Linked DNA regions of Homo sapiens. The protein of the gene in region 1 purifies or fractionates together with the protein of each later gene. This does not show direct contact. Each region holds a gene or a part of one and is shown on either strand. Other genes may lie near its edges.

Region 1 (3,917 bases):
CATAGTTTGGTATATTTGTTGTAACAATTGGTAACGATAAAATAACATTAGTACCAAAGTACCTGAAAAATGAGTTATGTAAATTTACAACATTTTTTTTTTACAAATTACTAATCTACGGGTTGTGAATTTATAATCAATATTAAAATTCAAAACACTAGCATACATATTAAAAACTGATTTGTAATAGTGATGAGGAAAACAGTTGTTACATAAAAACTGTATTAAAAAAGAAAACAAAATAAAATGACTATTTGGTGAAAAACAGTTTATAAAACGATTGCCTTATAACAGTACTAATCTCACTGGCAGGTAATATCTTAAAAATTCAGATATTTTTAAGATATTAAAAATTCAGATAATCTTACTGGCAGGTAATATCTTAAAAATTCAGAACAGAGAAAGGTTCTTTTATACCCAGAGAACTACATATACAAATCACATCTTTTTTTTTTAAGTTTTCAAAATGAGATATTATTATACATGATAAATACTAAAAATGTCAAAATAAGATATAGCGCAGAGAAGTTAAAATCTTTTAGTGAAGATCAAAAGCAAAAATGTAGAAAAAAATCCTAGAATACTGATTAAGATGAAGACTAAGACAACAAATACACAGTGAATTCTGGGATTTGTGACAGCCACGCCAAGTCACCCCTCAGTATCAATGGACAATGGTTTGATCCTCCCACAGATACCCGAATCCACAGATGCTCAAGTCTCTGATATAAAATGGTGTAGTACTTGCATATAACCGACACACAGCACACCCCATACATCAAATCATATCTAGATTACTTGTAATACCTAATGAATGTAAACAATATGTAAATAGCTGATACACTGTATTGTTTTATGGAACAGTGACAAGAAAAGAAAGTCTGTACATGTTCAGTATGAATGCAAATTTTTTTTCCAAATATTTTTGATCCAAGGTTGGTTGACTCCACAGATCCCCCAATCTGGAGGGTTGACGATACAGTGAAATTCACTGACACAGATTTTCCTTTTCTGATTTCTGTGACACAATTAGGTGAACAGGGTATGAAACCTCCTTTTGGCAGTGCGTTTCCACAGCTTCCCCATCATTCAAAGACACATTTCCTATGCACATACTGGAGGCACAGAACAAAAACCCAGTACAACAGAACTACTCAGAGCCTGCAACTTCACTCCAGGGAAAAACCCTTTACAGTAAGATACTTTATCAGTTTTCTTAAGAGCGGGAGGCTTGTGGTGAACATATAATCATCTGAAAGGTGTTAATGCTCAAATCAGTTGTATGGGTGGAAGGAAATTTTCCAAAAAAGGAAAAAAAATAAAGATGGGGATGAGTTATGCTGGGTGAAAGAAGTCAGTCAAAGGTATACAGGATTCCACCTATGTGACATTCTAGAAAAGGCAAAACTATAGGGAGAGAGAACAGATTAGTGGTTGCCAGAGGTTAGTGGGGAGGGGGGGGTGTGACTACAGGGAGATTTTTGGGGGTGGATGGAACAGCTTTGTATCCTGATTGTGGTGAGGGCTGCACAAATTTATACGAGTTAAAATTCATAGAACTGTACCATCCTCCAAAAGAAGTCAATTTTACAGAATAATAATTTTAAAAACAAGTATACATTTTTTTTAAAGATGGAGAGGCTAACAAACTTTGCAACCTTTCCAGGTAAGGATTCATGAGACCTGAGCAGCCAGCCAGCCCTGAAATGGTTGGAACAGGAGAAAGAAGAAGAGCTCGACAGATACCCTGCCTGGGCTGGCAGCCCAGCTGCACCACACGCTGGCCAGCTGACAGCGGGCACATCCCTTCATCACCCAGTGCCTTTCTTCCCTCTTGTGAAAATGGAGATATGCTGAGAAGGTTACCTCAGCTCATCCAGGGAAAGCTTCTTCAGCTAACTAGGCTGTAGAAAGGGCCTACAGTCTAGTTAAATTTCCAAAAACAAGTTAATGCCAGAATATAAACTCCATGAAGTAACAGATTGTGTCTGTTTCATTCCTGCATGTATCCCTCATGCCTAGACAGTGTCTGGCACACAGTACGTGCTCAACATTGACTGAATGTGAGGGAAAAACCTATGCAGTTCTATACCATGTAGACAGGATCATAAATGATCACTATTTAAATTGTGTGTGCTGCTTTCCTTGACAAGAGTAACCAAGAGTCAGCTCCTTCAAGCTGATAGGAAACCCTGCTTCCTGGAAATGAGTATATCGAAGAGATATCTGCACTTCCATGTTTGCTGCAGCTCTGTTCACAACATCCAAGATGAGAAAGCAACCCAACTGTCCATGAACAGATGAATGGATAAAGAAAGTATGGTACTTACACACAATGGAATGCTATTCAGCCATAAAAAAGAATGAGATTATGTCATTTTCAACAACATGGATGGTCATTATGTTTAGTGAAATAAGTCAGGCACAGAAAGACAAACATCACATGTTCTCACTCACTTGTGGGACCTAAAAATAGATACAACTGAATCATGGAAATAAAGAGTAGAAGGATGGTTACCAGAGGCTAGGTAGGGTAGCAGGGTGGCATGGGGGAGGTGGGGATGGTTAATGGCTACAAAAAAACAGGAAGATTGAGTAAGACCTACTATTCGATAGCACAACAGGGTGACTACAGTCAATAATAATTTAATTGTAGATTTTAAAATAACCAGAAGAGTATAATTGGATTGTTTGTAACAGAAAGGATAAATGCTTGAGGGGATGGATACCCCATTTTCCCTGATGTAATTACTATGCATTGCATGCCTCTATCAAAACATCTCATGTACCTCATGAATATATACATGTACCCACAAAAATTAAAAATAAAAAAAAAAGAAAATTTTGCTATCTCAGCAATGGATTTCCTAGTTGCTGAAGAGATCTAGGTATACACTTCTATTTCAAATTTAAAATGTTAAAAAAAAAAAGTCTTTACAATCATTTTGATGTCAAAACTTGGTTTTTAATTAAAAAAAAAAAAGCATTCCTGAAAAGGTTTATTAAAACTGGTTTTCACACCTCTTATGAAAAAGAAGTGGCTCACACTTATAATCCCAGCACTTTGGGAGGCCGAGGCAGGAGGTTCACTTGGGGCTAGGAGTTCAAGATCAGCCCGGGCAACACAGGGAGACCCTGTCTCTATTAAAAAAAAAAAAAAAAGAAAAAGGGGAATTTTGTTGTAAATGTACACATAAAGTGTTCTTAGAATTTTGGGAGACACTTTCATAAATGAAGAATCTCTGTCAAATGAATATATATGTAAATATATATTACCCAAATATAGCAAATATTTGCTATATTAGTATTCATTCATTATATATTACATGTATATTTTATTAAACATACGTATTAAAGTACAAGTTCTAAATATCACCTTTTCCTATAATATTTTCCCATTCCTAATGACATATTTCATCATAAAAAATTATACCCAATGGATCTCAGTTTCAGACATTTTTAACTTTATAATCTAATATTAATAGTAAACAACAAAGGATAAATTTCACTTAAATTTTAACAAGTTGAAAGAGAGGTAGCTTCAAGTCTGAGGTAAAGCACCTTACCAAGTCGGCCACTCTGCATAAGGAATCCGAGAGCTCATCGAAGATCAGCACGGTCTGGGGCCCAGGTGGGGTGGAACATGCACGGTCCACAAGCAATTCTGTCTTTCTCAAGGCTTTTTCTTGTGCAATATGAAATCCTTCTGGGGCACTCAGCTCAGGAACTCCAAAAAGACCCTTAGAACCAAAGAATACGTCTGATTTATAACCAAAATTCAAAATTGTGCTTTTTTTATATTTACTAAAATTACTTTTATCACAAAGGAGATCTTGACTTTCATTGGTGTATCATGTTATACCTGTGATCACAGATACCACTATCATACTCCCCATATCACTCCACATAAATTACAC
Region 2 (3,917 bases), on another chromosome or scaffold:
AGAGATTCATAACTGGGACACGAGACAGGAGAGACATAATTTCTGAGATGGGAAGAACTCGAGATCAGCACCGTGGACAGCGCCCCGACCTTTCACGTTTTGCCAACCGGCGAACGCTTTCTTAAGGAGGAAATGTCAGCTGGTGGACAAGGGAATCGTGTGTGTGTGTGTGTGTGTGTGTGTGTGTGCTGGTGGACAAGGGAATCGTGTGTGTGTGTGTGTTGGGGAGGTGGGTAGAGCAGGGTGGTTACTACTAGCTCAAGCATCGCTCAGCTTGTTGGCTCCCAATCTCTACTTTTTGGAGCGCGAAAGTCAAGAAAATGGGATAGGACTCTTCCCAGTTCAGGATCGCATTCTTCCTTCAGCCCTGAAGCAGACCATACTCCATAAATAACTTCTAGGGCGCACAGAAAGCTTTTCAAAGTCAACCAAACAAGCCAGATAGCCGAGACAGCACCGCCCACGTAACCTGCCCCGTTGGGCTCAGTCTTACTTTGGGTGGGGCACTGTTCTCCGGGTCGCCGGTGTGTGTAGGCCCGCTTGCTGACAGACAGGCAGAGTTGGGTTTTCGAACCTCAAATAAATTTAAGGGCTTCTTTGTTTGAAGGGCTGGGGCAGGGACATAAATGAGGGGCGTTCCCTAAAATTAACATTAAAGACTCCAGGGTTTTTTGTTAACCAGCGCCTCCAGCCGCGGCTCTTCTCTCCTCTCTTTTGCCCTCCCCTTAAGTCCTGGGGCCCAGTTTTACCAGAGGAAGAGGGTACGCGCGGAAGAGGGCAGGGCACCCCTCCCCACGCCCAGCCCCGGCCCTTACCTGGTAGCCAGCTACCTCGGCACTGTGCCGCTCCTCCAGCTCCAGGATCTGCCTCTCCAAGGACTCGTTGGCCCCGCGCAGGCCCTCGATCTCGATGGTGCGCGCCTGCAGCTGGCGCCGATACTCGTGGATCTCCTCGCGGCTGGCCCGGATGGCCTCGGTGCTGCGCGCCGCCTGCTCGTTCAGGTTGGCAAACTTGGACTTGTACCATTCTTCCGCGGACTGCAGGTTCTTAGCGGCCAGGGACTCATACTGGGCGCGGATCTCCCTCAGAGCCGAGGTCAGGTCTGGTTTAGCCACAGTCACGTCCACCTCGGCCGCGGCCTGCGACGACGCCTGCAGCGTGGCCAGCAGCTCGGCTACCTCCTCGTCGTGCACCTGGCGTACGAAGGCCAGCTCGTCCAGCAGCGACTCCACCTTCTTCTCCAGGTCCAGGCGGGCCAGCGTGGCGCCGTCCACGTCGCGCTGCTGCGCCTTCAGGGCGCGCTCGGCGCCTTCGCGTCCGCGGCTCTCCTCCTCGCAGCGCGCCCGCAGCCGCTGCACCTCCTCCGCCAGCCCGTCGCGCTCCAGCAGGGCCTGCGAGCGAGCCGAGCTGGCCTCCTCCAGCTGCGCGCGCAGGTCGCGCAGCTCGCGCTGGAAGAGCTCGCCGACGCGCGACGGCTCAGCGTGGCGCTGTCGCAGCGCGGCCAGCTCGGCCTCCAACGCGCGGTTCTGCGTCTCCAGCTGATGCACCTTCTCGATGAACACGGCGAAGCGGTCGTTGAGGCCCTGCAGCTGCTCCTTCTCGTTGGTGCGGATGATCTTGTACTCGTTGGTGCGCGCCGCCGCCTGGCTCAGGTCCAGCCCGTCGGACGCCGGCGGCCGGCGATAGGCCAGGCCGAGGCCGAGCGACGAGGCCGAGGAGCAGGCGGCCGAGGAGGCCACATTGCTGCGGGACAGCGACTGCGAGCGGAAGCCGCCCGCGCCGCCGGCCCCAGAGAGGCGGGCGGACAGGCGAGAGCCATCCCCGAACACCTTGCGGTAGGAGGAGGAGGAGCACAGGTAGTGCTCCGAGCCGAAGCTCATGGTGCCGGGATCGGGGCCGGACGTGCGGCTTCAACGCGAGCTACAGAAGAAAGGAGAGGTGCGGCAGGCAGGGCGCGGCGGGGCGGTGCGCCCGGCTTTTAAGGCGCCGGGGCTGGGGCGGCGCGCTGGGGGCGGAGCTCCTGCTCAGAGTCTGGCCGGGAGAGGGAAGGGGGGCATCCAGGAGTGGGGGCGGGGAGGCGCAGTGACTACCGCAGCTGCGCGCGCGACGACCTGGGGCGCCGGGACAGGGCCATCTGCATCGGAGTCGCCCCTTTCCGCAGCGCTTCTCCCCAAGAATCGACTGCTTCGGAAGTGACTCGAGCGGAGGGGTGCCTAAACGACTGAGGTTTCCCATCCGGAAACCACACAGCTCTGTCGCATCCCTTGACCCTATCCCCTCTTCTTTAACCGACTGGGAGGTTAGGGGTTTCTGGGAGGTGTCCCCTACACCCACCCTCATCCTGAGGTGAGGCGCACAGAAAGCCTTCCCGAGGGCGAGGTCGTGTTTTTCCAGTTACAGTGAGGACCTGCAGAGCGAGCCCTTGTCCCCTTCCTCAGGGTCCCCAAGGAGAAAGGTGGGAGATGCTACGTCAGAAAGCATCTCTCCAGCTGCCCCTCTGCAGCTCCTGGGGAGGCTCCGGGCGGAAAGATGTTCAGCAAGTGCCTCTCCCAGAAGAGAGGGGAGATCAGTAAAGAAAGTGACCCCGAGCTGCGGAGAGTGGGGAGAAGCGGCGGTACAGAGGGGAAAAGAGGCCAGACTTGGAGAAGCAGGAGGCGCTGGGAATTGCTGGGGCTCATCGTTAGGGCACTAAAGCATGGCACAGGCCAGGACCACAAGCTGCTGGAAAGGGGGCTGCAGACTTTTGTGTTTAGAGCATTATATTTTAAAATATTTCGAAAGGAGCATTTTTAAACCAGGAGATTTCACCTGTAAAGAAATTGGATTTCTGGCTTCTTCTGAAAATGGGAAGAGCTGGGATGCCCACAGTGGCAGAGGTGAGTTGCCCTTGCCATTTGTATAAGAAGTGTGCTCTCCTGTTCACTACAGTCCCTGCCATTCTCCACTGAATTACGCCCCCCTTCTTAATTCATTTACTTTACCTCTCTGACCCTGTGGGCATTTGAGATTTCAGTTTGTGTAAATCCAGCAGGGCAGGTTCTCAACTGGCTTCAGAGAGCCACTCCCTGTGCAGATCTCTTTTTGGAGAAAAGAGATCCCTGCAAAAAGATTAAACTCCAGGAGTGGGGGAGAGTGCTGGTGACTGAGCCGGCCTCTTCTGCCACATGGTAGGGTTGGTGGGGCAGGGGGTGAGAATCAAAGAATGGAATCTGAAAAGATGAAGGCTGGGAGGGGTCAGTGTGGCGTCTGTAATATGTACCCACTTGCAAGCTTCTAATATCATTCAGGATGTGGATATGGCTTTGGAGAGGGAGTAGGAAGACCTTTTTAGTTATATCCCAGAATTCCAGACTGAGGGCCTTTTATTGATATTGGAATCTTCAAGGACGTAGTTCTAGGATAAGTTTTACTTCATGGGGAAAGGGGAATATGCTTGGGACAGGCCACTAAAGGAAGGGTGAAAAGGGATCTTATGGGACTTTGGAGCATATCTCTTGGCTTTGTGCTTGATGTCATGGAAGATGGTCAGGCCCTGCCACAGCCTGCCCCTCTGGTTCCTCATCACAGACCAAAGCCTTGAGTTGGAGGGACTCAATTCTGAGGTCTTTGGGCTTAGAAAGACCTGGTAAGGTGAACAATAAAAGATTGCTAACACTGCTGAGTAATGATTGTCTGCCAGTACTTGTGCTGGCACTTTTGCATAGGTTTACCTCTGAACCATGCTTCAAGGTGGCCCTCACCTCCATCTTATAGATAAGGCACCGAGGTGCGGGTGCAGCACAAGGTCACCAGCAAGCAAAGACAAGCATACATTCTCTCTTCACTACATAATTCTGCTTAGTGCAGTGAGACTCTTTTTTTTTTTTTTTTTTTTCTGAGACGGAGTTGGCCGGGTGCAGTGGCTCACACCTGTAATC

What was found.
Region 2: the proteins of MIPEP (region 1) and INA purify together in Homo sapiens (affinity purification with mass spectrometry; 2 studies listed by BioGRID and IntAct, with this or other methods). This does not show direct contact.

What each region holds. Positions count from the first base shown.
Region 1 is NC_000013.11:23,882,767-23,886,683, forward strand, and holds part of MIPEP (mitochondrial intermediate peptidase), read right to left. Parts: intron 3,741-3,917; coding exon 3,567-3,740; intron 1-3,566. UniProt on the Homo sapiens protein: Cleaves proteins, imported into the mitochondrion, to their mature size.
Region 2 is NC_000010.11:103,275,175-103,279,091, reverse strand, and holds the start of INA (alpha-internexin), read right to left. Parts: upstream 1,955-3,917; 5' UTR 1,881-1,954; coding exon 816-1,880; intron 1-815. UniProt on the Homo sapiens protein: Class-IV neuronal intermediate filament that is able to self-assemble. It is involved in the morphogenesis of neurons.